Linked DNA regions of Homo sapiens: region 1 is linked to region 2. Evidence: fine-mapped expression QTL. Tissue or cell type: whole blood. Region 2 holds a variant in brackets; the other region holds the start of a gene. All regions are shown on one strand. Distances are between the middles of the regions.

Evidence for each region. PIP is the estimated chance that this variant, and not a neighbour inherited with it, causes the effect.
Region 1: TNFRSF17 starts here. The variant in region 2 is fine-mapped to the expression of TNFRSF17 in whole blood (TOPMed, PIP above 0.99).

Annotation. Positions count from the first base shown.
Region 1 is chr16:11,964,012-11,966,511 of GRCh38, reverse strand. TNFRSF17 (TNF receptor superfamily member 17) reads right to left here and starts at 1,302. Exons shown (of 3, transcript NM_001192.3): 1 at 1,058-1,302; 2 at 171-317. The coding sequence starts at 1,187. It also overlaps a transcript of NPIPB2 not described here. RefSeq lists enhancers at 1,075-1,514, 1,635-1,754.
Region 2 is chr16:11,839,366-11,842,125 of GRCh38, reverse strand. It overlaps RSL1D1 (ribosomal L1 domain containing 1), which reads left to right. Exons shown (of 9, transcript NM_015659.3): 6 at 126-219; 7 at 306-431; 8 at 2,141-2,431. Among named protein-coding and RNA genes, the nearest start is that of RSL1D1, 11 kb to the left of the region's middle. The variant C/G (reference allele first, on the strand shown) is at 1,609.

The sequences.
Region 1 (2,500 bases), 120 kb before region 2:
AGAATGAAGATGGCTCACCTCTACCAAGTTCATTTAATGTAACAATGTTCTAACACATTCGAAAGGGCTGTAACGAAGTGAAATAGTCAACGCTAAAAAAAGAAAAGGAACTGAAACTCACAATAGCCATCCCCTGGAAATAGATTTCAAAGATTCACCATCAAACCAACCTGTGTTTTTAAACTCGTCCTTTAATGGTTCAGAGTTTATCTTCCTTAGCAAAAACATTAGCACGAAAACTGCCAAAGAAATTATTAAGCTCAGTCCCAAACAGGTCCAGAGAATCGCATTCGTTCCTTTCACTGAATTGGTCACACCTTTATGAAAAGAACATCAGACAGATAATGAGCTGATAACATAATATTCACATACTTTATTGTTATTATTTATTTATTTATTTTGAGACAAAGTCTTGCTCTGTTGCCCAGGCTAGAGTGCAGTGGCGCGATCTCGGCTCACTGCAACCTCCACCTCCCAAGTTCAAACAATTCTCCTGCCTCAGCCTCCCGAGTAGCTGGGATTACAGACCTGTGCCACCATGCCCAGCTAATTTTTTGTATTTTTAGTAGAGACAGGGTTTCACCAGGTTGGCCAGGCTGGCCTCAAACTGCCGACCTCAGGTGATTCACCCACCTCGGCCTCCCAAAGTGCTGGGATTACAGGTGTGAGCCATCCACCGCACCCGGCTGTCATACTTGATTATTTTGCTAAAATAATGAATTATGGATTGTTTTGATAGCAAAATAATCAAGTATGGATTATTTCCATTCAATCACCTTAATTAATGAACATTGACTTTTAAATTCTAAATATCACTTAATTAGAAGAGCTGATTTTTAAAAAAAATCTATGTTGCTAATAGTGCTGAATCATATCAAGTTCAGTTCCAAATAATTACTTTGTTTCCATAAACATTAAAATCACTGCCTTGCTTCCTTTCTCTTTTTGATTCAAGAAAACTCACCATCATGCCCATTATGTTGATTCTCTGAATAAGCAGTCCATATAGACAGAATAGTTCACACCAATGAATAATCGTTCAAGCAATATTACTTACTTGCATTACAATAACGCTGACATGTTAGAGGAGGAGTATTAGAAGAACATCGAAGTTGACAAGGTATGCAAGCATGCAACAAACTGTCAAAATATTCATTTTGGGAGCACTGCCCAGCCATCTGCAACATGATCACAAAAAGAAAACAAGGGAGCTACAGAAAGAACAGCCTGGAAGGACAAGTAATATCTCTACAAGAATTCCAGAGCAAATGCAGCAAGAGCAGCTAGAATGTTGAGAACAATGAACTTCGCCTGCTTCGTGGGTTCTTACGGGGGCTGTCTGTGTCTTCGCGGCAGCTAAGGATTTGAATACCACATCTAATTCAAGTTTCTAAGTTTGAGTCTTGGATGGGGTAAGAGACAGGGTGTAAATATCAGGGCATATCACATCTGAAACAGAAACTGCTTATTTATAGAAGAAATTTCTCAGCCAGGTGACAGTTGCAAGATGCAGACAAGCCCACAGCATCAAGCCGAATGTTCAGTAACAGTTTCTGGAACATCTGTTAATAAGCTGTACTCTGTGAGAGGTGCCAGGGAGATAGACAAGACAAGGTCTGTGCTGTGCCCCTTAAGATCTTAACATTGAGGCCAGCTGCAGGGGTTCACACCTGTAATCCCAGGACTTTGGGAGTCAAAAGGCAAAAGGATTGCTTGAGCCCAGGAGTTCAAAATCAGCCTGGGCAACATGGCGAAACCCTGACTTTACAAAAACATTTTAAAAAGTAGTCTGGTGTAAGCTGGGCGCCGTGGCGCTCTCCTGTAATCCCAGCACTTTGGGAGGCCGAGGCAGGTGGATCACTTGAGGTCAGGAGTTCCAGAACAGCCTGGCCAACATGGTGAAACCCCGTCTCTACTAAAAATACAAAAATTAGTCAGGCATGGTGGCAGGCACCTATGATCCCAGCTACTCAGGAGGCTGAGGCAGGGAGACGTGCTTGAACCCAGGAGGCGGAGTTTGCAGTAAGCCAAGATCAGGCCACTGCGCTCCAGCCTGGGTGACAAAGCAAGACTCTATCTCAAAAAAAAAAAAAATTCTACAGGAAGATCAGAGGTGATGCACTAAGGAAGACGCACAATGCCACTGACAGAAAAAGAGACATTTAGGGTAAGAGCTCGTGGAAAGAGGGCTGAGAGGAAGATAGGTTTGGGGTATTATAATAATAATACAATAATCTATGTTCCATTGTTGAAAATTTAGAAATACAGATGAGCAGATAAAACCATTTTAAAAATCCACAGTCCAAGCATCCAGAAGTCATCACCGCTAACACCTGGTGTATCCCAGAAGTTGCAAACAGACCTGCCGATGCGATGTCTTTTGTTTCACCGATCCCTGAATTCTAGATAGATACATTTATATAGTGCATTTTTCTGTTTACATAAATGGATCACTTGAATTTGCCTTTTTTTTTTTTTTTGACAGAGTCTCACTCTGTCT
Region 2 (2,760 bases):
TTTCTACCTTTTTAAAAGAAAAAGAAAAACTTGAGGATTATGTATTTATATTTCTCATATACCTGCCTGGTTTATTTTGAAAAATGGTTTTTTAAAATCTTGTCTAATACTATATTAAATTTCAGTGCTATACGTATTGGTCACGTTGGAATGCAAATTGAGCACATCATTGAAAACATTGTTGCTGTCACCAAAGGACTTTCAGAAAAATTGCCAGAGGTACAGTATTACAGGTGCATCAATTGATTGTTCATTTAAAAGAAACAAAGTATATGTAGACGATGTTACTCTTTTCTTTGTTTCAGAAGTGGGAGAGCGTGAAACTCCTGTTTGTGAAAACTGAGAAATCGGCTGCACTTCCCATCTTTTCCTCGTTTGTCAGCAATTGGGATGAAGCCACCAAAAGATCTTTGCTTAATAAGAAGAAAAAAGTTAGTAGAATTTTAAATACTTACAGAATGAATAATGAAGGGTGTAAATTCAGTCACTAGGAGAGAAGTAGACCATCATCGCTGCCCGACTTTTCAGTTATCTTCTGGTTTTGTGGTGGTTGTGCTTTTGTCACTTTACATGAGGTAAAATGGGTATGCTTTTGTCACTTTACATGAGGTAGTTGATGTTAGTAATGCGCATTAAGATAGAAATATCTTGTATTTATTGATAAATTGGATTTTTTTTTTATTTTTGTTAGATCCAGTGCTTGCTGGGTTTTTTTAGAGAGACAGGGTCTCACTCTGTCCCCCAGGCTGGAGCACAGTGACGTGATCAAGGCTCACGGCAGCCTTGACCTCCTGAGCTCAAGCAATCCTGTTTCAGCCTCCCGAGTAGCTGGCACTGCAGGCATGCTTCACCATGCCCAGCTAATTTTTAAATTATTTTTTGTACACACATGGTCGCCCTGTTTCCCAGGCTGATCTTGAATTCTTGAGCTCAAGCGATCCGCCTGCCTTGGGCTCCCAAAGTGCTGGGATTACAGGCATGAGCTACTATGCCTGGCCTGGATTAACTGGCTTTTGAGGGGGCCTGAGTTAAGTTCCTACCACATATTTCCGGTCATAGAAACATCACCATACTTCTAAATAAAGACCAAAACATTTAAAATATTAAACATTGAAATAAATGTGAGCTATATATACATTTGAAACAGTAATAAAAGGAATTGACATAATTATTTACCCAGTTATTCCCATCCACGGTTGTAGGTGGCTGGAGTTTAATCCTGATAGCTCAGGGAAAAGGGTAACAGGCAAGAGCCAACCCTAGAAAAGGCGCTGTTTCATCACAGGACAAACTCATACACCTACATTCGTTGGGACTGGGACTGGGATAACTTCAACACACCAGTTCACCTAATGTGCACGTATTTGGATGTCGGAGGTTATGCTCACAGATACCTCCTGAGCTTGGTTTGTAGGTTTTCAGTATTACTCGTACTCTAGCAAAAGAAGCTTTCGGAAGGAGAGAAAATTTAATTTTTTGCTATTTGTTAGACTGATCTCCTAGTGTTTCTCTCTTTAGCCATGTTAATTGTGTCCAATGAATTTTTAATTTTGTTTTTGAGACAGAGTTTCACTCTGTCGCCCAGGCTGAAGTGCAGTGGCATGATCT[C/G]AGCTCACTACAACCCCCCGCCTTCCAGGTTCAAATGATTCTCTGTGCCTCACCCTCCTGAGTAGTTGGAACTACAGGCACGTATCACCATGCCCAGCTAATTTTTGTGGTTTTAATAGAGATGGGGTTTCACCATGTTTACCAGGCTGATCTCGAAGTCCTGACCTCAAGTGATCCTCCTGCCTCAGCCTCCCTGAGTGCTGTGATTACAGGCGTGAGCCACCGCGCCCAGCTGAGTATTATTCTTTACACTCTAAACCATACTGTGTTTCACAAAAGTCTCTTAACTGTATACTTTAGATAGTCAGATTCTGAAATGCCGGTATATAATTTACTGCATAAAATGCATGTTTGGCTGTGAGTCAAAAACTGCGGTTGAGGTTCCAGTGCTGGTTAGGGAGTTTGTTCTCTGTATAGATCGAGGTCCATTTAGGGGCTTATGGATAATCAAAACTGCACGTGGTACATCTATGCCGTTTGTTAACCAACAGAACTGTTCCTGCTAAAATGTTTGTATGGTGTTTTTTGGTAGGAGGCAAGGAGAAAACGAAGAGAAAGAAATTTTGAAAAACAAAAGGAGAGGAAGAAGAAGAGGCAGCAGGCTAGGAAGACTGCATCAGTTCTTAGTAAAGATGATGTGGCACCTGAAAGTGGTGATACTACAGTGAAGAAACCTGAATCAAAGAAGGAACAGACCCCAGAGCATGGGAAGAAAAAACGTGGCAGAGGAAAAGCCCAAGTTAAAGCAACAAATGAATCCGAAGACGAAATCCCACAGCTGGTACCAATAGGAAAGAAGACTCCAGCTAATGAAAAAGTAGAGGTATTGTTTTAATATTTACTGTTCATAATGGATTGGTTCAGTGGCTACTGTGTCAGGCAGGTACTGTGCTGAGCAATAAATGATGAAAAATACTAGAGTGAACCCAAAGAACTGTGAAGGTGGTTATCATATCATGATTTATTGTACCTTTTTTTTTTTTTTTTTTTTAGATGGGATCTTGCTATATTGCCCAGACCGGTCTTACACTCCGGGGGTCAAAACAGTCTTCCCACCTTGGCCTCCCAAAGTGCTGGGATTACAAGTGTGAGCCACCACACCTAGTCCCAACCGGTTGGCTTTTTTTTTTTTTTTTGCTTTGCTTTTTTTTG